Regions from separate parts of the Homo sapiens genome. Here regions 1 and 2 are each linked to region 3. Evidence: fine-mapped expression QTL. A gene starts in region 3. Each other region holds a variant in brackets. All regions are shown on one strand. Distances are between the middles of the regions. Region 1 overlaps OSTF1 (osteoclast stimulating factor 1). Region 2 holds the start of LOC105376090 (a long non-coding RNA gene). Region 3 holds the start of OSTF1 (osteoclast stimulating factor 1).

Region 1 (10,626 bases), 42 kb after region 3:
TATAACTAATTTTCCATAGTTTGTGCTATGTGTAAGACTAGTCTGTGCAAATCAAAGTGTAAAAGCAATATATATTTCAGAAAGTTACCTTTTAAAGGACTTAGCCATTTGGGGGCATCAATAATCATCATTTGCTAATTTTTATATTTGAATGCATAATGCATCTAAGTATTTTCATGTATTATGGTTGCTTAAAGCATGTTATTGCTGATAATAGCCTTCATTTAGATTCATGGAGAAATAGTTATAATAAGAATGTAGATCAGCTTTAAAACTAAATAAATTGCTAGTGCAGAATCATATTTACTGCTCTAGTCTGCTACTGAGAGGAGGTAAACAAATGGAAAAATGAATGGATGAAATATTTTATTTTTAATTTCATTTTTTAAAAAAATTTTTTGAGACAGAGTCTTGCTCTGTCACTCAGGCTGGAGTGCCATGGCGTAATCTTGGCTCACTGCAACCTCTGCCTCCCAGGTTCAAGTGATTCTCAAGTCTCAGCCTCCCGAATAGCTGGGATTATAAGTGTGCACCACCACACCTGGCACATTTTTTGTGTGTGTTTTTAGTAGAGATGGGGTTTCACCATGTTGGCCAGGCTGGTCTCGAACGCCTGTCCTCAAGTGATCTGCCCGCCTCAGCCTCCCAAAGTGCAGGAATTGCAGGCATGAGCTACCACGCCTGGCTGGATGAAGTAATTTGTTTCACTAGCATAATTTTGATTTATATGGAATAGTAATTATAATCAGAAATATCAAAGCCTTTCTTTTAAAAGTATTTTTCCCACCTGAAATATGAAAGCAACACATGCTCATGACAGAATTTGGAAATTTTTGTGTCTATTTAATGCATAGTTGTGTTCTTATCACATGTGAAATTTGTGTCCTACATTTTTCATCCACCATGATGATGTAAACATTTCCTAACACCTGAAATTTGCTCTCGGTAGGCATCACCCTACTTACTTACAAAGTCATGGTAAGTGTTATCTACTGATGGTCAAAAGATGTTTAAAATGTGTATCTTTATTCAGAAAGTGTTTTTTGGTTGTTTTTGTTTGTTTGTTTGTTTTGTTTTGTTTTTTGAGACGGAGTCTCGCTCTGTCACCCAGGCTGGAGTGCAGTGGCGTGATCTCAGCTCACCGCAACCTCTGCCTCCCGGGTTCAAGAAATTCTCTGCCTCAGCCTCCCGAGTAGCTATGATTACAGGCATCCCCCACCATGCCCAGCTAATTTTTGTATTTTTAGTAGAGATGGGGTTTCACCATCTTGGCCAGGCTGGTCTTGAACTGCTGGCCTTGTGAACCACCTGCCTTGGTCTCCCAAAGTGCTGGGATTACAGGCATGAGCCACCGCACCTGGCCTCAGAAAGTTTTTAGAACATTTGGTTGGTACAGGCCAGAGCACATATGGTCTGTGTAATTAGCCAACTCCTTAGAGCTGCTTGGGGTTTCTGGACTGGCTGAGTTACTGCTTCATATCTTTTAGCTCTTTAGCCTTATTAATGGTTGAATTACATATTAACTTTTCTCATACAGAAAATGTTCATTCTCCCTGAACATGAAGAGCTAGGATAATGATTTTCTTAAAATGAGCAGATAGCAGATGTTGATCTTAAAGTGTTCAAGGATTGAGGCCTTGTTTAAGAGAAAATCAAGCTTCTGGCTGTTTTTCATGACTCTAATTCTAGACATTTATATTTTTATGAAAAAATGTATACCACCTTTTAGAATTTCTACAAGGAAGAAGTTTTATTAATACTCTATTTTGATATACAAATGTCTTGCTTTGGTTGTAGAAGAATGCAAGATGTGTGTGGAGAATCTTTATATATGTAATTCTTTGAAGTTCATCATGGGAAAAAAATCTAGCCGTCTATTCATGTGTTAATTTTTCAGTAGTGTTTTATTATATGGCTTATGTGCTGATTTAAGTGTATAAAACCACATTGCTTATTAGAATATGATAGAATTTTGAATCTATATAATCATATTCTAATTCATGAAAAATCACATGGAGTCAAACTTTTTTTTTTCTTCTAGCCAGATGAATTATACTTTGAGGAAGGTGATATTATCTACATTACTGACATGGTAAGTCCAGATAACATCTTGTAATACCACATATAAAGACTGTTTTATGTAGCTATAACATTGTAAGTTATTTAAATATATATGTACATAGAAATACATATGTACAAGTCTGTTCATTTTAGCACAATTGATAGTAGCATAAGATTGAAAATAGCCCTTATTTCCATCAATAGGGAAAGAGTTGAATAAGCTTTGGTCTAGCCACAAACAGAATATTATGCAGCTGTAGAAAGAAATGGGGAATATCTCTATATGCTATTATGAAGTAATTTAAGTGAAAAAAAAAGCAAAGTGAGAAAATGTAGATAATATATCCTCAGTTTTCTAGGAAAGGGTGAGAGTGTATGTGTACACACACATACATGCAGACACTTGTTTTTCTCAATTTCAGATAAAAAGTTGAAAGATGAGTTGCAAAGTAAAATTTAGTTTTATTCTATGAAGAGTAAAGATCCTTTCTCTAGGTGGAAGGAGAGAAATAGGGTATAATGAACATAGATGGAAGATAGACTTTTTAGAAAATTATACCTTGTTTTGTGGATTTGACTTTGAACTGATGTAAACCTTGACATGGTTAAAAATTGAAGTAAAAAGCAATCCCTAAAAATTAAAAGCAGAATGAATCAAATGAACTTAATTGTACCCTGGTAATTGGCCTAACCACACAGAGAGGAAATATTCCAAGTTTAAAACTCAGCAATTTGACTGAACATCCATAGTAGAATATGGATATGTATGAAAGACATATATATATATATATATATATATATATATATATATATATATATTTTGTCCATATATATATATATTTTGTCCATATATATATATATTTTGTCCATATATATATATATTTTGTCCATATATATATATATATATTTTGTCCATATATATATATATATATTTTGTCCATATATATATATATATATTTTGTCCATATATATATATATATATATATTTTGTCCATATATATATATATATATATATATATTTTGTCCATATATATATATGGACAAAAAGAAATGGCCAAAAAAGGGTAAATTGTTTTAAATCATGCCCTTGTTAGGGAAATGTAGGTATTGCTAATTCTGAGATTGTTGCATGTGTATTGTGGTTTAGAGCAAATGAGTAATTAGGTCGGTGATGTTGCTAACGGATTTTCAGCATAGCAAAAAGGATACACAGATGTAAGATTAATGACAGTTTAAGAAAAACTCTGTATTCCTTCATCTGAATTGCAAGGATCACATTGTATTTTATCTAAAATAAAACAAAAATATTCCCTGCTGTGTTCTTTGAAAGGGCCTAGGAAAAATGACCAACCCAATAATAATATGTTATTTTCCATTGAAATGTACAGGCTTCTTTGAGAAATGGCTGGTACCAAGTCAGGGGCAGCAGAGGTACAAGATAAACCCAGAACATCCTCTTATTAGAAAACATGGAAGCTCCTAAAGACAGTAGGGTCACACTGAAAGGACTTGGGAACGAACTTGAAGAGACTCCCACTGGCCAAAGATAGGACAATTTGAGCATCAATTAGGGCAACAACTTCCAAGAATTGAAACCCATTAAATACATTTAAATTTATGAGTTTCTAATGTTACTTCTGAGGAAATCTCATTGGTCAGCATGAGAGAATGCTAGGAAATCAGGTTTTTATTCTGACAACTGTTAAGGGAAAGAATCACCATTTATTCTGTGTTTTCTTTATGAATTTCTTACCTGGGCAATCTGAGAGCTGATGAGGAAGTTTTTGTTTAAAGAGGTATTCAGGTTATTTCAATGAAGAAGGAATGATAGAATTAGAATGTCACCATCTTGCAGCCTCTAGGAAATAGTGGATCTAGACAATGATCATCAAGGGCTACTAACATTACAAAAAGAAGCCGACTAGATAGTTTGCATTTCCTAATGGAAGAAATCAATACTGCCTAGGAAATAGCCTTGCCAAAAAAAATTGGAGCTGAATCTAATTAAACCTCTAGAACTGATGACCAATTTATAGGCAATACAGGGAACAGAGGAACATGCTTAATGATAACACAGGGATACAACAGGCAAAATCCATAGAGGTTGACACTACAGAACAAACCAACTGGATTCTTCAACAAATACATTGTAAGAGATAAAAAAGAATGGAGAGACAACCTATAGATTAAAAGATACTTAAAGACAAATCAATCATATTGTATAGCCCTTATTTGAGTCCCAAATTATGGGGCAGTTGGGAAATTTGAGTATCGACCTAGATATTTGATGATATTAAGGAATTATTGTTGGAAAAAACTTTTAAGCTGTGATAATGGCATTATAATTGCCTTTCAAAAAGTATGTGTCTTTCAGAGATACGTACTGAAATATTTACAAATGAAATAATATGATGTCTAGAATTTATTTTAAAATA[A/T]TCCAGGAGGGGAGGGACGTCATGGGGGCATATATGAAACAATATTGGTCATTAATAAATGATTTGTGCAGTTGGGAAATGGGTATATATATGGTCATTACATTGTTCTTTCTACTTTTTTGTAAGTTTAAATTTTTCTATAATAACAAGTTACCCCCAAAATGAAGATAATATAAAGAGATCTTTAGAACTTCCTCCCCCATAAAAAAAATTATCTCAAAGCTAAGAGAAATGAAACTGTGGACAAAAAATCATATAGCTAGTCTAAACTAGCGTAATTTGTTTTCTTCTGTTTCATGTCATCTCTTATTTGTTTGGTTGTTGAGACTCTGTCATGAAACGTATTCCATTTGTTGCAGGCAGATGCGTGTTTATTTGTAACTGAGTGGTAAGGGAGACGGACACCCACAGCTAGGGCGTGAGGAAGCTTGATAGTGTGGGTAGGGTTGATGGACATTTTGTAGAACAGGTACTCCCTAGGAGCTAGATAATTTGAAAAGTGAATGAATGCAGTCTGGATTTCATACCACTTAATTTAACTCTTCTTTTACCAGAGCGATACCAATTGGTGGAAAGGCACCTCCAAAGGCAGGACTGGACTAATTCCAAGCAACTATGGTAAGTGTTGCTGAGTGGTTTTACTTTAGCTTCGTTCACTTGGAATTTTTTGGTTCTTGATGCTTTTCTGCTTGCTACTGTGGCTGAGAAAGCAATGGAGTCATTGTCAGTCTAGGACATTTTCTATTCCATGAGCCTTCTGTTAATAAACTGGCCATGAACACCAGATGTGCTTGAGCCTGACTCTGTGGCCTAAGAGAATGCATTTTAGCATTCTTAACCCAAGGTTTCCAAGGAAACACTTATGGTTTTACTTTCTTCAACCCTTAAAACAATTTTTTTTAATGCTGATAAACTCAATCTTGCAGATAGTTTCTTAGACTAGCCGTTTCTTTTGTGATGGAGTAACCCGGCCTTGTTCATTCATGTTTGGGGCAGTGATGTTCATTAAATGCTTATCATGGCAGTTTGGAGACTTTGAGAGATGAGAGACACGGCTCCCGCCATGAAGCTGCTTCAAGCTGGAAGTGGGACAAACAGATAAAACACTTGTTTAGTTGTCAGCAGAATCAAGTCAAAAGAGCACAGAATTGATAAACAAGGCTCCTGAGTTTTAATCCTCTTTCTTCCATTTCCTAATAACACTTCCTACTGATTCTAGGACAGCAGCGAACATGCCTTCTTTAAGAGGCAGGTAGCTATGCTGATTGTTCTTTCTGAATACAGGAAGCAAAATACTCCCCTCATCCGATCCTACATAAATACACACAAGAGAACCAAAATTATTTTCAGGTATCTTTAAAGCAGAGTGATCTACAAAATGTAAAAATGAACATCAAATGCTTCCTTTTGCATTTTTGTGACTTTGTTTATTAAATACTTGAGTAATATCAAGTGTGCATTTAACTCAGGTATGCGGGTTTGTTTGTTTTTGTTTATACTTCCAGTTAATTACTATGTTATTGCCTTATTGCTTGGCTTGGTTTCCCTAAACACATAATTCAGCTTCATTTAATGCAAGAACTATCCATTTGATTTTCTGTTACTTTTTATCCACATTAAGTAAAGGAAACTGTGTTGAATGCCCTGGTACTCCTGAAGCTGGGGGACTGTGGTGAATGAGTGGCTTCAGTAAATCATTTGTGTGGCAATTCCACATTGGGTTAACACTTTTTATTTTCAATCTAGTGGCTGAGCAGGCAGAATCCATTGACAATCCATTGCATGAAGCAGCAAAAAGAGGTAGGTGTGATTCTTTTTGACTGAGGTATGCAGTACAGTAAAAGGCACGGATTTCAATTAGCTTTGACAAGTGCATACACCCACGTAACCAACACCCAGATCAAGATCTAGAACATTTCTGCCATCCTAGAAAGTTCCCTTTGCACCTTCTCAGTTAAATCCCTGCCTTACAGTCTGTCCCAACATCTACTACCCTAGAGAAGTGTGATTTTAGTTTTAAAATGTCAGTCAAGAAACACTGTTGTGGGGAGATGCAAGTCGAAAGACATGGTCTGTGACTTCCAAAGCACAACATCTGGCAGGGGAGAGAGAGATGTAACAGATCATTAAAATATGGTATGATAAGTACAGCAATTGAAATGTGTTTGACAGGCCGTAGAGGCCCAGGTGAGTAACTGGAGGGCAAGAGAATGGAAGGGTCTGGTGGGTACAGCATTTAGGAGAGCGTTGGTGTGGTGAGCATTTGGCCAGGGAGGGCATGACTAACAGGGATGAACCTGGGGAAGATCCTTGACCAAACAACGATCAGCCTTGTCTTGGGCTTTATTCTGTAGATCAGTAGTCCTCAGCTAGGGGTGATTCCTCTTTCACAAACCCCGAGGGTATTTGGCAATATCTGGAGACATGTTGACTGTCATGACTGGAGGGATGTTACTGGCATCTTTTGGGGAGAGGCAGGCGTTGTTGCCACACATCCTACAGCACACAGGAGCACCCCCACAATAAATCCAACCCCAAATGCCAATGGGGCTGCTGCTGAGAAACCCTGCTGTAGATAATGGGGAGTTTTTGTAAAGCCTCAATGAGCTCCATTTCATTCCATTTTTAGATTTTTTTGGAAATCTGAATGTACACAAGGAAATTATTGGTTAGGATTGTGAAAAAGTAAAAGGACTAAACTGACATTTAAAAAATTCTTTGTGAATTAGATACTTGGGACATTAGCCTGAGGATTTTAAATTAATAGTTATAGTTTAGCATATAAGAGCAGCAGCTTTGAGTAGGTTATTTAGCCTTTCTTATAGGAACTGAAGATGCATTTTAAATATGAATATGAATAGTATCTGCTTGTTCTTAGGTTTGATTGTTTTTTCCTCAATTTCCAGAATTTCACAAAGAAAAAAATAATATATACACATACACACACATACACACACACACACACACACACACACACACACACACACACCCCTATATATTTTTTAACAGAATAGAAATACCTTAAGTATACCCATTTGGGCAACTATTCCCATTAACTTATCATTAGAAACATTGATGTTAATACTTTCCATTAATAAGCTGGAAGTCAAAATGTACCATAATAAATGCATTAATGGGGAGGTCTTAATTTAATACTTGCTGATTAATCCATTGCAAATGGAAATTTATGCAGAATGACATTGATTTAAAAGCAAAATAAAAAGTGAAAGCTTTTTTTCTTGTGTTCTTGTAAATGTAAAATTCTTTCAGGCAACTTGAGCTGGTTGAGAGAGTGTTTGGACAACAGAGTGGGTGTTAATGGCTTAGACAAAGCTGGAAGCACTGCCTTATACTGGGCTTGCCACGGGGGCCACAAAGGTATTACATTTTGTTTGTTATATGTTTCTATGCTGCTGAAAATGTGTTTCACCTACGGGAGCCAGATTTACAAAAAATGAGAAAGGAAAAGCATTGGCTATTCTTTTTGAATCCTTTAGAATACCGGCCAAAACCCTTGTTCCTGGAAGCTCTGTAGAACAGTGGGTAGAATGTGGTCAGTCAGCCTCACTGCATGGGTCCCTCTCGCTTGAAAGACTGGACACTTCCTTTCCTCTCTCAGGCTTAGAAAGGTTACTGGAAAACAGCAGTAATATAAAAACAAAACCACTGTCTAATCTTACAGAAGGAAAGATCAGAATTTGCTCCTCTAGCTTAGCTTTTCACAAGGTCTTCTTTTATGATTTGCATTTTAAGTTTAATGCAAACTATTAGATTCAAGAGAAAGCCAACATTTGCCAAAGTTAGTGATTCCATTGATACTTTTTCTGTTGTAATCAATAATAATGACAAATTGAATTTTTAGATGTATTTCTTCCTGGACAAAAATTTATCACCCACCGCTTTTCTACCTCTCTCTATAACAAAAGAAATAAACTCAACAACAATAAGAAATGAAGATCTCAACAAATTAAATAGCAGTGCCAAAGGAAAATTTGTAACTGTCTACTAAAAAGAAGCCTATCTTATTTCAGCTAATAAACATGTTAGTTATATGAATGAAAAGTATTATAGTGAATGTAAAAATATTCCTCTAAGTGTCATATGAAAATGCAAAAGCCAAAACTATTAGAAAAAGTATATTTTCCTAAATAATTCCACTTTTTAGATTCTTAAGTTTTTCTATTTTATAAATTTTACAAAATGTGTTAACATTTTCTTGAAGGTTCTTCTGAAGAATCTCTCTTTTATAAAATTATTGTACCTAGATTTGTCAGGCTTCTAATTTTCGTTCTTAAAAGGTATCTTTTCTCTTTGAATTTCAGATATAGTGGAAATGCTATTTACTCAACCAAATATTGAACTGAACCAGCAGGTAAGACTGCTTATTTGAAAATTATTTAACACATACCTGCTTGTTGTCTTTAGTACAGAGCAACTCATGGGCATGTGAAGTATTGTAGTCAAAATCCCACAAGCACATAATTTAAAAATTATAATTGTACTAAAATTCAAATTATCCACAGCCCCAAGTGCCAAACCCACTCCTCCTCATATGTCACTTTCAGCTTTTAGCTCTTTCTTCCTGTACTTACCTTTGTGTTACTAAGGAATAGGCTGACGGAGCTATCTCGCCATGCATTGTCTTCATGTGTACTTTGGCCTCCTGTTGGGTATGTGAAGGGTTAAGCTTGTCAGCTGCCCCAGCTCTCATCTTTCAGCACCCCAGCACCAAGCCTGTTCTCCTCTGCTCCTCAGTGTACTTCATCACAGTTTTTGGTTATATTACTATATAATATTTACTTTATTATGGGTGTCTAAATAGTGTTCACTGCTTATATAACCTTTTTTTGTTTCTGTACTTACTTTTTAAAACTCATTTTTTGTTATCTCACTGTGACTTCTCTACTGTTTTATACAGTCTTGATATATAATACTTTTCCAAAATGTGTAAGATAATCAACAGCTTTCTTTTTTCTCCCTGGATTCATTACTTCCTGAAGCTCTCCATCATTCTCCAGTCTGAGCAGCTTGGTCCCTGTGGCCCTTTGCTGTCCTCCAGGGAACCCCTTCCGTTCTCTGCCATGTTGCATCTTCATTTTTCTGGATCCCTTGTCTTTCTTTTGTCAGAGAACATCTTCAAGTAGATTCCTGAGAAAGAGAAGCTTGGGATTGATTATATGGCTGATCAGAATTCTAGGTCAAAAACAGTTTCCCTTAGAATTTTGAAGGCATGGCTCTGTGGCATTCTTGTTTCCAGGGTTGCTTTTGAGAGATTTGGTGCCATTTTGATTCCCATTCTTTTATGTATGATCTGCTTTTTCTCTTGCTAAGAGTATTTACTTTATTGTTGGTGTTTTCAAATTTTATGATGATGTGCTAGCATTCATCTCTTCCCAATGATTATGATGAACTCTTTCAGCCTGGAAAATTATCTTGTATTTCTTTTAGAATTTTTATCTGACCCTTCTTTGTTCTTTTGGTTCTGGAATGCCCATTAGTAGGATGTTGGACTTCTTGGATTGAACCTTCAGTTTTCTTAATTTTTCCCAGAGATATTCTCACCTTTGTTTTATTTTGGTTATCTTTTTAATTCCCCAGAGTTCTGTATTAGTTTTCTATTGCTGCCTAGCAAACGACCACAGGCTTAGCAGCTTATACTTTCTGTACGTCAGAATTCTGGGCATGGCATAGCTGCGTTCTCTGCTCAGGGTCTCCCAGGTGGAAATCAAGGGATTGGCTGGAGCTGGATTCTCATCTGGAGCTTGGGGTCTTCTTCCAAGTGCATTTAGGTTGTAGGAAGAATTGATTTTCTTCTAACTGTAGTATTACTGAGGCCCTCAGCTTTTAGAGGCCACCCCTCTCTGTAGACAGCTCACAGTATGGCTGTTTGCTTTCTTCCTCAAGGCCAGAAGGAGATTGTCTCTCTGCTGTTTCATTGTTTTTATTTTTTAGGGGCCCACCTGGTTAGGTCAGGCCCACCTGGGATAATGTCCCTTTTGAAGAATTCAACATCCGCTGACTAGAAACCTAATTATGGGAGTGATAGCCTGTTACATTCACTGCTTTCACTTGCAGTCAAGAGGAGGGGGCCTGTACCAGGGCCAGGAACCTTGGGGGCCATTCTTAGAAT
Region 2 (9,140 bases), 64 kb after region 3:
TTAGAGTGGAGAAACCCAACAACTCATTACAGTTTCGCTAAGATTTGAAAGGTTAAAAAAATTTATTTCCTTATGATAGATGCCATACTTTTCCATATGGAGTAGTCAGGAACCATGAAATTTTTTGCATTCAGTTTTTTTAATAACATTTGTTTTCTCACAGTATGGATCTAGTTCATAATGATTCAGATTCTTTTGCTGAAACACAATTAGCATTGCAGGGAGCCTTCTGTACTACTGACATGACACTTCATTTGGCGTTCTAATTTTGTATCACTACAGTGATGATGTAAAAATGACATGGCCATTGGAATTTGCCTAGAATCCCGGCCCTAGGTCCAAAAGTATATTTTGCAAGATGATTTCAATGCTAATTTCAAAAAACACGTTGATGAAGAGAAGGAAATGTATGAAGAAGGAAGTGGGTTAGCTCAGGAAATGAATAACTGCCTCTATAAGAGTTTATTCTGTGACTGTTTGGTTTTTCACTCTGTGGGAGCCTTGAGAAACGATACCCAGAGAAGCCCATTTGAGGTCTTTCAAACACCCTCAACTAAATTTTAGTAGAAGAGAATCTGTACCACTAGTGACAACAAAGTATGAACACAAATTCTGGCACCAACAAAAGAGGGCATTTTATTCTTAAAATAAATACGTTATTAAATTTGATTTAACCAGTTGTATTTCTTCTTAAACATAAACTTGAAGATATGAAATTCTTCCTGAAATTGTATCTATTCCTATAGATCCTTTAAGATTTTTCTTTAAAATGGGGCTTGTTTCTTAACAAAAAGCTTTTAGAGAACCCTGTAACTTTTTGTTCTTCTATACTTTGGGCTGGGGTAATTAGGATGGATTTCAACTAAAGACTCTTAATTTTTAAAACATGGGCAGAAATAATACAGCTTGTGTGGCTATAGACAATTTTTATCAAAATACCATGTACTTGCTTTAGATATATTATTTGTATATCTGAGGGAAAGAATAGTGGAGGTCTCACTATCATTGTTTTTAACATTATCAAACTTAAGAGAATTTTAGAAAGTTGGACAACTATAGTTTTTTTTTGAAGATGAGGAGAGTGCTTAGCTATGTGCATGAATTTTTGGTAAAACAGGACAACTCATTTAGTTGTGGCTGAAACTCCACTGGAAATTTTTTTGGTTTGTTTCTTGTTTATTCAGCCTGGCTAATCTGAGCTTTCTCAGAGATTGTTTAGTGCTGAACTCAGCAACAAAAATCAGTTCTAGGAATTTGCCACTGCTCTGACTGTGCAGAGGAGAGCTCTGATTATGTTTTGGAAATAACTTCAGAGGTTTTGCTGTAATCTGAGCTTGCTGACAGTCACTGTGGCCTGAACTCCTTTCTAGTGATTGCACCCTTTAAATAGGAAATGCCTTCCAGCTACTTGGGCAGTGCGATACTTGTTTAGTTGTAGGCCCAGGAGCCTCATGCAAAGAAAAATTCTTATCAGAGGTTCCCATTTCAGTTTTCTTTCTGGGCTGTTCTGTTGCACATTTTGTTGTTGTTGGGCTGACATGTATTACAGCATTTCTTTATAAGCCCCCATGGCTCCTCTTTTCAGTAGATTAATTATGTTATTACTCAAAGGGAAATGTTGAACAAAGCAATGGCGACTCCATTTTATTAATCTTAAAAAAAAAAAACTGGAAATAGGCCAGGCACGGTGGCTCACGCCTGTAATCCCAGCACTTTGGGAGGCCGAGGCGGGAGGATCACCTGAGGTCAGGAGTTTGAGACCAGCCTGGCCAACATGGTGAAACCCTGTCTCTACTAGGAAAAAAAAAAAAAAAAAAAAAAACTAGCTGGGCATGGTGGCGGGTGCCTGTAATCCCAACTACTTGGGAGGCTAAGGCAGGAGAATCGCTTGAACCCGGGAGGCGGAGGTTGCAGTGAACGAAGATTGCGCCATTGCACTCCAGCCTGGGCAATGGAGACAGACTCCATCTCAAAAAAAAAAAAAAAAAAAAAAAAAGGAAATAATGCTGAAAACGAAATTTTAGGTAATTTGCAGATAATTTTAAAGATGGAAATGTAATTTTTCCACATAAGCCTTCTTCATAAATGTTTTTTATTGTGTAGAGTTTCTGATTTACTAATTTTCTTATTGTGAGCACTATATTTATCATCTTTGTAAATGATGATTTCTTTTCTGATAGGCTGTGGAACCTAACATTTACATCTGATTATCTGCCTTCCCTATTGACTCAGACTGTGTATTTTTTGTCTTGATTTTTATATTGTAAATATGTATATTGCAGGAAAAGATTGTATAGCCAAACTTTGAAGTGTCCAATTACTAAAAGTTGAGGTTTTAGTGGGAGAAATATTGTAAAAGATTCTGGTATTCCTGTTTGCAAATATAGCTTTGGTGAACAGTTTTCTCATGTGAAGGAAAAATTGCAGACCACAAATTTGTGGCTTCTGTTTCCTTATTTCTCAATAACAAGCTTTTACATCTGCCCCTCCCTTAAAATGACATGAAATTAAATAAAACTACCATTTATGAAATGTCTACTCTTCCAGTGCCTGTGCGAGACATTTTCACAGACATGATGTCATTTGATCTTTGCAGTAACCTTAGGCGAGGAATGTTAATGCCCCAACTTTTTACAGAGACGCTGAGGTTTGAAGAAGTGAAGGAACTGGTTGAAGGTGGACACACGGGTCTGGGGAACCCACGCGCTATTGCCTGCTGCAACAGTCAGATGTCATCATTCACATTCTCTCAGAAAAATCTGCAGAAACAGGACAGCTTCTTTCCAACGGAAGCCCTTGATATAGGCATCTAACAAATTCAGCATATCTGCTAATCAATTCATAATTTATTTAAAATGACCCTAAGCGCTTCCAGAGAAATTTTCACCAAACTTTTAGTTCCCAGTAACCCTAAAGAAATATTTAATGAAGCAGGTTTTACTCCCAAGTTTCCAAAATTTCCTACTCTGTACACATTAGAGTATGAGTAAGTATAAGAGAAGGAAAGCTTAGATCAGCACCTATTCATTTTGCTTTGAGTTTACATTGCTAAGTTCAGCAGTTCTCTCAGAGAGTCTGAGAGCTCCTCACTTCTGTGTAACCATGAAAATAAATGCATCCCTTGGAAGGGTCAGGGGATGTGGTCTTACCTGAGTCTGGGAGCTCGATGTGTACATGGAGGTAAGTAACTTCACAATTCCCAGGCAGTGCTGCTGTGTCTGTCGCCAGTGGCCAGCGGCTTGGGTTTCCCAGCAGGCTCAGCCCTGTGGGCAACTGGGAGCCACAGGGAGGCCAGGTTCCTCGCGGTGCCCGGAAAAGAACACTGAGGAAATCCAAAGGTATACATTAGACAGCCTGACAGGAAGCAGGAAGGAAAGTGGAAGGAATAGACAAGGAGTGAAGAGGCTGAGCCTCAAAGGAAAAATGGTTACCTTTTCTAAATGACCCATAGTTCTGACAGAAATTAGTAGAATGCTTCGAGAAGTGGTGAGGGGTATGGGCTTTGGAATCACACTGTCTGGATTCAAGCCTGATTCTGCTGAGTGACCTGCGACAGGTTACCTAAACACCCAGATTCCCTAGCTGTGCAGTGGAGGAAGTGGTAGTATCTACTGCCTAGAGTTAGAAGGATTAAATAAAATCATATATGCAAATGACTTAGTTCCTGAAAAACTCTACTACTGAGCAGTTGCTCAGTTAATGTTGGGTATAACCATGAACAGGGAAGTCTGCATTAAAACCAGATATGTGTGTTATACAAAGGAGTGTGTCAACACGTTTTTCAGTTTCACCACCAATATTGAAGAGCAGAATTTCCTAAAATACTTTAAAAATGAGTGGAGGACAATGATGTTGCCTTCCAGTCATTTAGGTTTCTTCATATGTGGTAGTAGAGTTTTTCTTTTTCTTCTTCTTTTTTTTTTTTTTTTTTTGAGATGGAGTCTTATTCTGTTGCTAGGCTGGACTGCAGTGATGCGATCTCAGCTCACTGCAACTTCCGCCTCCCAGGTTCAAGCAATTCTCCTGCCTCAGCCTCCCGAGTAGCCAGGACTACAGGTGTGCACCATCACGCCTGGCTAAGTTTTGTATTTTTAGTAGAGACAGGGTTTCACCATGTTAGTCAGGCTGGTCTCGAACTCCTGACCTCAAGTTATCCACCCGCCTTGGCCTCCCAAAGTGCTGGGATTACAGGCGTGAGCCACTGTGCCCGGCCGAGTTTTTCAATATAAATGTACTTTATTTGAGTTACAGAGAAGAGATATATAACTGGAAAAGACCTGGTTATTACTGTTACAGTAATTCAAAGATGAAGTAGGGAGATTGTCTCTGCCACTGTTTCAGTTTTATCCTGTTGCTTTCAAGTGGTTTGATGGGCTTGATAGACCGTGGGTCTGATGTTTGATACATGATGATTTGAAATCAGAAAGGTGTTTGGTGTTACTATCCTGCTCTTACATGACTTCAAAATTCAGACAAT[A/G]CTATTATTCAAATGAATAGACTTTGCACCTTCATAGGTTCCCCTATAAAGTCTAAACTTCAAGAATTTAGTCTCACAGCTTCAATGACAAAAAGAGAATTGAAGACACTTTAAAGTATCATACAATCATATTAACTTTGAACAAGGTGAACAAAAAAGAACTAAATTGCATATTTTGTTATTACCCATTTCAGAAGGTGAATTCCTGAGGCCACAAGAAAATGCTTCATGCCAACAGTGAGTATGAGATGTGGATGTGATGCCTGTTTGGACACAGGTTGGCTTGAAGAGTCACACAAAGCTGGTCATTGACTGAAACTAGAAATGGCTTTGGAGAGATTCATGGCCCTGAAAGCTCTCAGAGAGGGCATGCCACCCTGACAGCAGGGTTCAGGGAAAGCTGGCATGCAGTCCTCTGTCATCCTGAGCCTGTGACATTGACCAGGTCCCTTGGTCCACATGATATGCCCAAAATTAGGATCAGGTGATACCAGCTCCTCCTTGTGTGAAGCAAGTTATCATTGCTGCATCAGTTTCTTAGAGGTCTTCGACCAGGACCTGATTTTTGAGCTTCGGGTCACAGCTTAACCCTCTGTGGTGGTTGTGTCAACTTTCCAGGGTGTGGTACGCCTCATCTGCATCAGAACGCGTGACAAACCCCTGTGCTTAATCTCAGATCTGGGGCTCAGGTGGTTGGTCTCAGGATGAAAGAGCACTTGAGGGCACAGCTGAGTATGTGAGTGTGGTCTGGTGTGGTGGAGGTGTTCACTGGATCTTTAGACCTGCTCTGGGCAATGCTGGGAGTCTTGCTCTTCTATGAGCCATTGCATTTCACAGACTGTTTATGTTTTAGCCACCATATATAGATACTGTATGACGTTTGTGAATGCCTTTCTTCTGTTTTTGAAAATGGGAAATCATGCCTTATCAGCTCTCTCTCTCCCCATTTCTCATTTTTAGTTAGCAATAGTGTCTTGTATACTGCTATGTGAATTCATTAATTATTACCACTACCACTACTATTTATTAATGTATTTATTTTCCTCTGGTGTTGAAACTGAAACTGCTACTGCTAGTTCTAACTACTAAGCAATTATTCCTTGCTAGGAAATCTCAGCAGGAAAACTATAACTGCTCATATGAGAATTGTTCTTCCATATTGTCTTTAAACAGTCCTTAGATGTCCAGTCCAGTGCCTTACACCCATCCCCTTTTTAATAGCTGGAGCCTGAGGCCTGGAAGTGACTTGCTATGAGAAACATAAGTCAGTACAAGAGCTGACCAGCAAGTGAGGAATTGGAAGCAAGGGGTCTGAGATGGTTGCCATGGGTATTTCCTTCTAGATTGTATTACTGCGTGAGACCATTTTCCCACTGTGGGCATGTTTTCCTTGAGTCAATTTTCCAGGTACTCTATATTCAGCACTCTCCTCCTTCCTTTTCTTTAATTCCATTTTAGCCACACACAGGGGAATGGAAAGGGCCTGATTAAATCAACTATTTTTTTTTTTTTAACTTTTATCTTCTGAGGCCAGGCATGGTGGCTCATGCCTGTAATCCTAGGACTTTGGGAGGCCGAGGCGGGCGGATCACCTGAGGTCGGGAGTTGGAGACCAGCCTGACCAACATGGAGAAACCCCGTCTCTACTAAAAATACAAAATTAGCCGGGCATGGTGACATATGCCTGTAATCCCAGCTACTCGGGAGGCCAAGGCAGGAGAATCGCTTGAACCCAGGAGGCGGAGGTTGTGGCGAGCCATGATCGCGCTGTTGCACTCCAGCCTGGGCAACAAGAGCGAAACTCCATCTCAAAAAAAAAACAAAAGACAAAACAAACAAAAAAAAACCTTTTATCTTCTGATTTAATGTGGCAAATATGAGAAGAAATTGAAATGCCAACCAAAATGCCATTGTAGAGTTTATAATCCCATGTTTTTTGGCCGTCCCCTGTTACCTCTCCTAGATAAACAGGAGTTGAATGTCTTGTGTCCTGATTTTTATGGTCTCTTAGTTACTACAATAACAAGATCACTCAATCCCGTGGAGTCTGTCCTATTACAGAATATCAATGTTCACTCTGCTTTTTCTTTATTTCATCTATCAGCAGTGAATAGCACTTTCATGTTTAAGATGCTTCCTTTTAAAGTTGGAGAATAAGAATAAATGTATTGGACGGCTTTGTTTAGTAGCAGCATTGTCCTTTAGATCCACTGAGGAATCTTAAGAATGAAATCATCATAAATAGGCAAATAGGTAATGTTTCAGTAAATACTTGTGGCGACTATGTTTCCTTTTTAACCAAGAGCCCAGTAAAATTTGTAATTACTTCAACTGAATGAGAACACAAGGCCATTTCATGTCCTCAATCTTTGTTGATATGCTTTGCTTATTTTAATGGCTTGCATGCATTTTTTATTGTGCTGTTGATAATAGTTTTACATAATTCATAATGATACACAATAAAAGTTTCATTGCGTTCACATTCCTTTGTGGGTCTCCTCTGTTGCATGTTGATTGTGGTTTAATACTAAAACTGTAACAATGTACATCCAGTACTGTTTCATTTTCCTTGTTACTACAAGCTATGTGATAAACTTACTTTATTCTGTATATGTCATTTTCATTTTTTTCAACATAATTTCTTTATTATGAAAGAAGCCAATACTTAAGAAATTATCATGTATTATTTTCTTATTCTTTATTTTATAAAATCTATGAAAATTCTTTCCTTATTTCCACCTCAATAAGGAGTTTTAAATTGTGATTTGAGGGATTGTTGATTGACTGATTGATTGATTGATTGATTGAGACAGAGTCTCACTCTGTTGCCCAGGCTGGAGTGCAGTGGCATGATCTCGGCTCACTGCAACCTCTGCCTCCTGGGTTCAAGCGATTCTCCTGCCTCAGCCTCCTGAGTAGCTCGGACTATGGGTGCGCACCACCACACCCAGCTAATTTTGTATATTTTTGTTTGTTTGTTTTACAGATATGGGGTTTCACCATGTTGGCCAGGCTGGTCTCGAACTTCTGAGCTCAAGAGATCTGCCAGTCTCCGCCTCCCAAAGTGCTGGGATTACCGGTGTGAGCCACCATGCCCGGTCAAGGGATTGTTTATTATTTGATATTTAAAAAATTATGTCATGCAGTTTCCCATACTTTAAAAAAATTTTAAAGCCACTTTATTGAGATATAATTTGCATGCCATATATTTTATCCATTTAACATATACAATTCAGTGGTTTGCAGTGTATTCACAGAGTTGTATAATCATCATTACTGTCTAATTTTTTTATATTTAATTTTTAATTCTGGAAATGAACACAATGTCAAATTTATATTAACCGTTTTTTAAGAGTAAAGTTCAACTGTTAACTATTCACATTATTATACAACTCTAGGACAATCTCTAATCTCTAAAAGAATCTAGAACAATTTCTAGAACTTAAAATACTTTTAAGTTTGAATAAAGATTCAAACCTCTTGCTGTGGAACAAAAGGCCCAGGTGTAGCCTCTGCTATTCTCCCTCTTAGCAGATTGCTCATGAAAAAGAGTCAAACTCTGTAAAATATTTGAAGGTATTTATTCTGAGCCAAATATGAGTGACCAAGTCCTGAGACACAGTCTTAAGTCCTGAGAACATGTGCCCAGGGTGGATGGGTTATAGCTTGATTTTATATATTTTAGGGAGACAGAAGTTACAAACAGACATCAATCAAATACATGTAAGGTGTACATCGATTCTGCCGGGAAAGGCGGTACAACCTGAGGTGGGAGGGGGGCCCAAGTGTGTATCCAGCTGCCTGGAAGGCCGTGCCAGGTTACATGGCCAGCACCCTAGCTCAGGCTCTTTCCACATTCCTTGTCTTCTGTTTAAGCATGCTTTCTACCTCTAGGCCCTTTTTGTTGCATCACTTCTGCTGTGATTTGAATGTTTGTCCCCTACAAAATTCGTGTTGAAACTTAATCCCCAATGTGACAGTCTTGAAAGATGGGATGTTTAACAAGTGATTGGGTCTTGAGGGCTCTGCCCTCATGAATACATTAATCCATTAATAGGTCAATTAATTATCATGGGAGTCATACTGGTGGCTTCAAAAGAAGAGAAAGACCTGAGCCAGCATGCTAAGCCCCCTTACATGTGATGCCCCATGCCACCTCAGTTCTCTGCAGAGAGTTCCCACCAGCAAGAAGGCTTTCTCCAAATGAGGCCCCTTGAAGCTAGACTTCTTAGGTCCATAACTATTTTATTTTATTTATTTTTGAGACGAAGTTTTGCTCTTCTTGCCCAGGCTGCAGTGCAATGGCGTGATCTCGGCTTGCTGCAACCTCTGCCTCCCAGGCTCAGGCAATTCTCCTGCCTCAGCCTCCCAAGTAGCTGGGATTACAGGTGCATGCCACCACGCCCAGCTAAATTTTTGTGTTTTTAGTAGAGACAGGGTTTTACCATATTGGCCAGGCTGGTCTCGAACTCCTGACCTCAAGTGATCCACCTGCCTCAGCCTCCCAAAGTGCTGGGGTTACAGACGTGAGTCACTGCGCCCGGCCAAATTCCATAACTTTAAAAAACAAATTCCTTTTCTTTGTAAATTACCCAGGTTCAGGTATTCTGTTGTGAGCAACAGAAAACAGACTGAGACACCTTTCTGCACACTATTGACAAGA
Region 3 (9,228 bases):
AATCTAGGTTGTTATGTATGGACTTATATAACAAGAGAAAAAACATTTTCACAATTTTTTTTGATGAAATTCAACATATAATCATAATTTTTTTAACAGGTCTACTAATGACAAGAATGAAATTCCCTTTTATTGGGCTATCATTTCTCTTAATTGGATTTCTGTTGTGCTTTCTACATGAAACTGCAAATGTTCAGGCAGAGGGCCAAGTTAAGCCACCGGCCACTGTTTTGTGGATTTTTGGTTTAGGGGATGGAGGGCAGTTTCATACATGCCTCCCTAACGTTCACTAAAGTAGTCCTTGGTTATTACAATGGGCCATTTTTCTCACTAAGTGAAAAGGTGAAGCACAGCTGGAGGGAATCTTAGAATAGTGGCTCCTGAAGGTCATCCCTGAAGGCCACTCTTCTTCCTTCCTATCTGCTCAGGGGGGTTGCCAGGGACCTAGGCCGTGTAGCCAGGGGCAAGCGGCTGCCTGCCAAGCTGGAGGCTCCCAGCAATGCTCCAGTTTCTATGATCTGTGTCCACACTCTCCCTGGGGAGGGGTTATGCAGAAAAAAGCCTGGTGGGAAGAGGGCTATTGTTGTCTGACTTCTTGGCTTATCTAAATATCCCACATTGAGTACAATTGCTTAAGACTGGGGTCCACTTCCATTAACAAGTCTATGTGAGACAAGAATCAATAATGACTGTGATAAAATAGCAGCAGGGCACTGTGGCTCATGCCTATAATCCCAGCACTTTGGGAGGCCAAGGCAGGCGGATTGCTTGAGCTCAGGAGGTTGAGACCAGCCTGGGCAACATGGCAAAACGCTACCTCTACCAAAAATACAAAAGATTATCCAGGCATGGTGGCATGCTCCTGTAGTCCCAGCTACTTCGGAGGCTGAGGTGGGAGGATTGCTTGAGCCTACAAGGTGGGGGTAGCAGTGAGTGGAGATTGAGCCGCTGCACTCCAGCCTGGGTGGCAGAGTGAGGCCCTGTCTTAAAAAATAAAATAAAATAGCAGACAAGTTGCATATTTAAGTTTCATCCAGAGTTATGTTGTTGAATACACATCTCCATCCAAATTTACAAGATGTATCGAGGGAATGACTGCATACAATGAATATTGTAAAATACATTTTTATGTTGTAATTTTTCTGCTTTTGAATTTTATTTTACCCTATTCTTATTTTTTTGGTATGTCGGTTCAATGCTGCCAATTAGCCTTTTTTTGGGAAGGGAGAGGCTGCTCTTTATCTCACTTTTGTGGTGATAAATGTTCTTTCTCTTACAAAACTATGTTGTCAGAAGATGTTAGTAGAGTGATATCCTCACTTTACCAAATAAAATAAAAATTCATAAAACCTTGTCATTCCTTGCCCCCATTATTTTTGGATAGCTCGCTGAAGCATAAATTCTCAAACTTGGAGAAGTATAGCTTTAGCGATTACTTGGTCTACCCCTTCATTTTGCATAAGTGGAAACTGGCTCAGACAATAGAGCAATTTGCCTAAGGTCACACAGACAGTAAGTGGAAAAGCCAGATATTAAACTAAACCAATTGAGCTGACTTCTTTCTATCACTCCAAGCTGCTAAAAAGCACTTTATTACTAACAGCAAAGAAAGGGTGTTAGGTATGTGCTAGCTTAATTGTCAGGCTCTGATGTATAATTGATGTCATTCTTACTGATGTATTATTGATGGGGCATCTATTTGCTGTGCACACAGAATGGAAAGGACTACTGGTCCCCGTCCTAAACTGCCACATCTGTGGTTACACGTGTGACCATTGCATCAATTACATGGCATGTAAATAACAAGTGAGCATGGTTGTGGCATGGGAAATAGGCTTGAGGGGGTTACTTGCATTCAGGAACCAGGAGTAAGATGGCATAAAAAACCTACTTATAAAATCTCTCAGATACAGTCAAATGTAAGTTTTTTTTTTTTTTTTTTTTTTTTTTTAACCAAAACAGGAACTCCCAGTTCTACATTAGTTAGCAGTCTGGGCCTGTCCAAGCCAGTGTTTGGGTAAATGCTGGGCATACCCTATCAGCTATGAGCAAGTGACAATGTGATGGGAAGGGTGGGTAACTGGAACATGCAGAGACAAGAGAGGCAACTGGGCTAAGTGACTAGGGCGGGGTGGGGGGTGGGCCTAGCAATCCCTGAAGGCATTTATTTCAAAAACAGTGTGGATGCACAGGGCAGCTTTAGGGGAGCTCCAAGTTCAGGCCTGGCACTGTCCACCTCCACATCACATTCTACTATTTCATTGCCTGTTGCCCCTATAAAAAAAATCACCAAGGCTGCAGTGAGCCATGACTGTGCCACTGCATTGCAGCCTTGGTGACACAGCGAGACCCTATCTTGAAAAAAACCAAAACAAACAGGCAAAAAACAACCCAAAAACTGCCTCCCATAAAACCAAAAACAAAACAAAAAATCAAATTTAAAAAGCTCGCAATTGAGTTGCCAGGCTTCATGAAGCAAATGCAAGCTTCGTACAAACTGTAAATCATGTGATGTGTCCAAAGAGTCATCATTTCAGGGCACGTCTATCACTAGAATCCACACCACCTTCAATCTCATGGAATATCTGTGTAGTTTATTTTCCCAGTGCGTGCAAGGCTTTCCTCAACAGCGGAGAGCTTTTGCATAGCAGGAGAACAAACTAGGATAGCCAAGAGCAAACCTGAAATGACTAATTTTATTTTTTACACTTTTTTTTAACCCTAAGTAAAATGTTGGGTTTTTTAAAATAATTCAGGTGTGTTTATTATGCTTAATTCATTTCACTACTAAACACTTGCCTTTTGGATTCTAAACTGCAGAATGGTCAGAAGTGGCATGTGCAGAATCAGCAGATTGTACGAACTCTCTAACGCAGCTCTCTAACGCAAATGATCTGAAAGACAGCTGACAAAGCTAAATGTGCTCTTCAAATGTATCTACAGGACAGTCTGATATTTTAAAAAGAGAAAAATGTTTCCAGGACTTCTTACTCTGTATTCTATCCAACAGCTATTTTGATTCTCTTCTTCCAGGAGATAGGGCAGTCTTTTCCTACTATTGTTTAAACTTTGCTCCCTTTTGGTAAACAAATCCCTCAAGGCTGGGTTTTTTTTTTTTTTTTAAGACAGAGTCTCGCTCTGTTGCCAGGCTGGAGTGCAGTGGCGCAATCTCGGCTTACTGCAACCTCCGCCTTCTGGGTTCAAGTGATTCTCCTGCCCCAGCCTCCCGAGTAGCTGGGACTACAGGCGTCTGCCACCACGCCCGGCTAATTTTTTGCAGTTTTAGTAGAGATCGGGTTTCACCAGGTTGGCCAAGATGGTCTTGATCTCTTGACCTCGTGATCCACCCGCCTTGCCCTCCCAAAGTGCTGGGATTACAGACGTGAAGGGCTGGGGTTTTTGAAAACGCAATTCATGCCCCTCCCCCATTGGTTTCATTTATGTAGGTTCTTAGGTAAACAGTTTTTTCTTTCCCCAAATATACAATTAATTTACAATATTGACTGTTATTTTGAACTTATGCCATTGGCTTCCTTGTGTGCTCCAGTTCTTTCCTCCCACCGAAGATTCAATCCGATAGATCAGGGGTAGGAAAACTTTTTCTGTAAAGTGCCAGACAGGAAATGCTTTGGGCTTTGCCAGCTGCTACTCAACCCTGCTGGGTAATGCGAAAGCGGCCACAGAAAACACAGATGCAAATGAGCGTGACCGTGTTCCAGTAAAATTTTACGGACACTGAAATCGTAATTTCATGTAATTTTCACGTGTCACAAAGTATTATATTTCTTTTTATTTCTTTTCAGTCATTAAAAAAAGTAAAAAAAAAAAAAATTCTTAGCAGGCCTTACAGTAACAGGCAGCAGGCGGGCAGTAGGTCATCACCCCAACGCTAGAGGAATGAGACCATATCGATCCGCGAGGATCAAGTCCTGATCCTGTCCCTGGCGACTTCTCCAGGCTGCGCGGTCTCTTGGAGGCAGCGTTCCCATTTTCAGGATTATTCCGGGGCGCTAGAGCACCACGCCACCATGAGTACACGTCCTCCTCGGCAGGCCACCTATCAGCTCTGTGAGGGTGGCAAGAGTCCAGGCAAGGCTTTCAGGGCGCAACCAAGTCCCGGGCTCCAGCACAGAAACCCTCTGGAAACACCTCCAGGCCCCAGCAAGGCGGCGCGGCGCGGCAGGGGCGAGCAGGTACGCACTCACCTGGCGCCAGTTCGAGTCCTCCCAAACACAGCGGCAGAGGCGACAGCCAAGCGCGCGCCTGTACCCAGTGCGCCGCTACCCGCAGCTCGCTCCCCGAGAGGCCCACAGCCCCTTTCCCCACGCTCCTCCTGGGTTAGAGGGATGCCAGGTAGGGGCGGTCACCAGAGGCCCCTTTTCTCTACTCTCGGCGCCGGGTTCCAGCCCCCGTTGGGGCGGGGCGGGGCGGGGCGGGGCTCCGGCTAGCTTGGCCTCTTCCGCGCGCCCCTGCGCAGCTCCGGCCCTTCCCTATCGGGAGCGCGCGCGGCCCGCGGCACTGCACTGGCGCACGCCCGCTTCGCCCTCGCTCGGCTCCGGCTGGTTCCGCCGCCGTGCGCGCCGCCCGCGCTCCTGCTGCGGCGAAGCTGCCAGCCCGGGAGCCAATTAGCGCTCGGCTAGGCGGGGTCCACTTCCTCGTCGGCCCGGCGCGCGCTCTGGACTGCTCCGGCGGCCGCGGGGCGGGGCGGAGCACTCGGCGGAGCCGCTCTGCCTGCGTCCGCTCTTCCCGCAGCCAAGGGTGGGCGCCGGTCCTAGGAGGCGCACGGTTGTAAGCCAGACAAAAAGAACTGGGGTGCCCGGAGTGCCAGGTGGCGGGCAAGCGGTGGGCTTTTCGGCGGGGTCTTTAGGATTTGCAGCTCCAGGAAGCGAGATGTCGAAGCCGCCACCCAAACCAGTCAAACCAGGTGAGGGAGGTAAGGTAGGCGCTTGCCAGGTCCTGCGACCGCCGCGGTGCCGGCGCCTCCTCTGCAGCTTGGCAGGGAGGACCCGGCGCGCACCCGGCCCCGAGCCTGGCTTCCGAGATCGGCCCCACCGGGATGGGCGCTCTTAGTTTTGCGTTCGCTGTTACGGAGGAGGGATCGATTTTGATAGCAAGAGGATTTCGAGGATTAATATATATATATATATTTAAAGGGGAGTAGCCCTCACTTTTGCTACGTTGTCATTCGCTGAAACTTTCAGAGGGTGTGATGGCAACGTCCCATGGAAGTTTTCCGGAAAGACAGGGCCATTGATCTCCCTTTAAAAAATGTCATGAAATGATCTTTAGCCACTTCCTCTTTTCTCAGTGTTTGTCACTGTCAAGTTAGGGTTCCTGACCGGCCAGAGCGAACGGGAAGTGCAATCCCTGCAGGGTGGGGTGGGCGAGCGAGCCTCCCTCGGGACTTAAGCGTGGAGCAGCGTTTGAAATTGACCTCGGGATCTTGGGAAGAGCGTTTAGAAAAAAACCCTATACTCGCGCTCCTGGTGGAAAGAATCTAGGATGCGGCAGTGATCTCAGCTGTTGCTATTTGGAAGTGTCATTTTATCATCTCCTTTGCCTTTGCTCTCCCAAAGACGTTGGCGTGCTAAACCTGAGAGGGCTGAGATTACTAAATTCCTCAAAGCAGTTTTCTGGGCGGATTGTCCTTGTTCATTTTTGCTCTGTTCTTAGAATATTTTCTGTGATATGCAGAAATAAGATAATTGTAAAAGAAACTGACGTATTTTAATTAAAAGTTGTAACATACTGTTCCGCTCATTCATTTGGGTAGGTAATTAGAAAGGACTGACGTATTTCAATACTTTAACAACTCTTACGTGCATTCATTTGGGTAGGTAATTAAGGGAAATACAGGAAATGGAAGATAAATGGCTCCGATGTATTCTTGGGTTTTTTCTTCCCATAGTGTAATTTCGGTATAGCGAAATGCTGAAATTTAATCCATTTACGTCAAATTTTGAAGTAACTTTCTTTGCAAGAGATGAGTTTCAGTGATTACTTTTTTCCTTGATTTTCCTAAACTCTATAGCTTTCATACTTATCTAGTTTTGTTTCTTTGCGTTCCTGCAGTTGGAGTATGAAGTCCCTTTATTTGATAATCATGTACGTACGTATGTGGAATAGTGCTTCACTGAGGACTGACATCTTGGTGGGCTGAGTGTGAAGGAAGTTGCTGAGACTGGCTCTGCCCTGGGCAAAGATGGGGCACAGCTAGAGTTGGGTTCTGCATTGCATTAGATGTGGAATCTGATGAGAAATTTCCATTTTAAGTGCATATGTATGAGGTAGCTTTCTAAACTCAGGTGCAAATCAGGACCTTAAGTATCTAACAGTGCAGAGTTGTTCTTTGATAGCTAAACAATATTTTATTTATCTTATTTTTTTCTGATCACCTGCTGCCAGTTGAAATACGTTAAAGAATGCCCTTTTTAAAAATCTCTTCATGCGTATTAAATGCTGTCTATATTGCAAATGGAGGGACATTGACAGGTGTGTGTGTGTGTGTGTGTGTGTGTGTGTGTGTGTACACAGTAATGTATACATGTGGGTTCATTCACACTTGGGGGTTTAAGGGTCATCCTGTTACTAATTGTGGATACATTCCCAGGAACCTCCTTTCTCCTTCACATCAGAAAGCTTATGGTTAAACATGACAGGTGTTTAGAGGGAACTTTGCATTTTATTTTATTTTAATTTGTTTTATCTGGTCCTTGATTCAGGATAAAGGGAATTTTGAATCAACATTAATTTACAAATGAGATCCAGACACAAAGTTACCATAGAAATGGGTTTGCCAGTTTAGTAATTTACAGTGAGAAACATTACTGCCAATCAGAGTTGAAACTTTGTGTGGGCTAGCTTAGTTGAAGAAAAAAAAAAAGCGATGGCCAGGAGCAGTGGGCCATGCCTGTAATCCTAGCACTTTATGAGGCTGAGGTGGGAGGATTGCTTGAGGCTAGGAGTTTGAGACTAGCCTGGGCAACATAGCAAGACCCCGTCTCAACAGAGTACAAAAAACAAAAACAGAAATGTCCTATCGTAGTACTGTCCCACATTTACTGTGTGTTAGGCAATGGTATAGTCACTTTACACGTGTTAACACATTTGCTGCTCTCAACAATCTTATGAGATCAGTACCATTATATTGTTCCTGTTGCACAGATGGGGAAATAAAGATGCGCAGAAATGTTATTTAACTTGTCTAAAGTCAACAGTTAGAGTGGGGGATGTAGCAGGCAGTATTAAAACCCAGGTAGTCTGGCTTTGAAGTCTGCACTTTTTTTTTTTTTTTTTTTTTTGAGACAGACTCTCGCTCTGTTGCCCAGGCTGGAGTGCAGTGGCGCGATCTCGGCTCACTGCAACCTCCGCCTCTCGGGATCAAGCAATTCTCTGCCTCAGCCTCCCGAGCAGCTGGGATTACAGGCAGCCCGCCACCATGCCCGGCTAATTTTTTTTTTGTATTTTTAGTAGAGACAGGATCCAGGCTGGTCTTGAACTCCTGACCTTGTGATCCACCCTCCTTCGCTTCCCAAAGTGTGGGATCACTGTGCCTGGCCAAAGTCTGCACTCTTAACCATTTGCTATTCTGCCTTAAGTCATAGTGCTCCATTCACACTGGCGGTCAAATGTGTATTTTAGAGCTGGTGGTCAGGAAGTCGAAAGGGAGGGGCCTCTGGTCTACAGACTTTCTTGTCACAAATGCACATAAAGGTCAGCCCCTGGTTGACAGCAAGGAGAGTGGTGTGGAGCTTTACTTTCTTGTCCTGCAGGCAAGCTGCATGGATAAAAATCTCCAAAGACAGCATGGGATTGGGGGCTTTGGGGTTGTATTTAATTTTTTGGTTTGTTTAAACCTTGCCTCATTCCAAAAGGACTTCTAAAAATACACATGATCTGAGAGAGAGGAAAAAGTAAAGATAAAGCATGGTCATCTAGAGGAAGGGAAGAATAGTAAGATGAAACAAGAGGAAAAGCTAGCTTACAGACAGACCTGCATGTGTAGTAAGGTCACTGTAGATTTGGCTCTCAGCTGCAAGCAGAGAGAAAAATCTCAAGATTCATAGTGCTCATAAAATTAAAATGTGTCACTTACTCTGAAAAGTAGTTATTTTAATGGCATTGAGATCTGAGACAGATTTTCCTGTGGGTTCTCTTAAAGTATTGGAGTGGCCTGGATATCTCTAGCAGAAATACAAGACAGAACATCCTAGCCATGTTTCTTACAGCTTCTTTCAGAGCAAGATTTGGGCAAAACAGCATGGCTCAATTCAGTAGACAATACTAAAAGGAAAGGAGCTAGGTGAGTAAGGACAAAGGACTTGCTGGAAGATATTAAAAACAAGGGACATTAAGCTATAATGCAGGCTAATAGCATCTTTCTGGCTGATCAGCACATCCCCAACAGGGGGCCGATTTGTGGAAGGAGGCTGCCCAGGGAAGTCCCGGGCAGATGCTAGTGGGAGACCCTGGCCATTTTTGTACCATCTGGAGGATAGATCAGGGTTACCTTGTTTGGGTTTTTGGCCATATCCAGAATTCATTTGCTAAACAAATGTTTCTTAATAAATGTAGCTCATATATTAGGCCCTGTGCTAGACACTGGGGTTCCCAGGAACAATAATCTATGGTGTCATTCACGAGGGTCCTGAGTCTAATGGGGAAGACGTATGTATCTACAGATATTACCTAGAGTATCCCATATTTACAAGTGGATGGCTGATCTCATTCATTTTGTTTTTTTTAAAAAAGCTTGTAAGTAAAAATATAATTTTTTTATTTTTAGAAAATTTAGAAAAAGGTAAACAATAAATATATAACTAAAATATAGGAATCATCCCTGTCATCTACTGATAATCACTATTTACATTTGGTTGAATATTCTTTCAGGTTTCTTTCTTCTTCACATCCATTTCATTTCAAAAAAGAAAATAAAAACAATTACCCTCAGAACAGCGTCTCAGCTTCCGTTTGAAAAGTCTTGCTGTTGGTTGGCATATGTTTCCAAAAGGCTATACGGTATTGCCTGCATTCTGCTTGAAAAATCAATTCTGTCGCAGTTTGACCTTTCCTTGCTTACTGATTTTGTTTCTGTAGAATCACTTTTGGCCACACAAGGTCTGTCATTGAAACTTTCTCCCTTAACTGTTATCTGTGCCACCATGGTACTCTACTAAGATGTGTTGCAATTTCGTGGTCTTCAGCTCATTCTTTATGATACCCTCTTTC

The links. PIP is the estimated chance that this variant, and not a neighbour inherited with it, causes the effect.
Region 1: its variant is the best candidate, but not a certain one, in a credible set for the expression of OSTF1 in whole blood (INTERVAL, PIP 0.61).
Region 2: its variant is the best candidate, but not a certain one, in a credible set for the expression of OSTF1 in whole blood (GTEx, PIP 0.73).

What each region holds. Positions count from the first base shown.
Region 1 is chr9:75,125,528-75,136,153 of GRCh38, forward strand. It overlaps OSTF1 (osteoclast stimulating factor 1), which reads left to right. Exons shown (of 10, transcript NM_012383.5): 3 at 2,042-2,092; 4 at 5,051-5,114; 5 at 6,243-6,296; 6 at 7,767-7,874; 7 at 8,819-8,868. Among named protein-coding and RNA genes, the nearest start is that of OSTF1, 42 kb to the left of the region's middle. The variant A/T (reference allele first, on the strand shown) is at 4,497.
Region 2 is chr9:75,147,461-75,156,600 of GRCh38, forward strand. It overlaps LOC105376090 (a long non-coding RNA gene), which reads left to right and starts at 7,517. Exons shown (of 2, transcript XR_001746731.3): 1 at 7,517-7,556. The variant A/G (reference allele first, on the strand shown) is at 4,478.
Region 3 is chr9:75,083,803-75,093,030 of GRCh38, forward strand. OSTF1 (osteoclast stimulating factor 1) reads left to right here and starts at 4,712. Exons shown (of 10, transcript NM_012383.5): 1 at 4,712-4,924. The coding sequence starts at 4,891. NMRK1 (nicotinamide riboside kinase 1) reads right to left here and starts at 4,353. Exons shown (of 9, transcript NM_017881.3): 1 at 4,206-4,353. RefSeq lists silencers at 4,223-4,822, 5,013-5,102.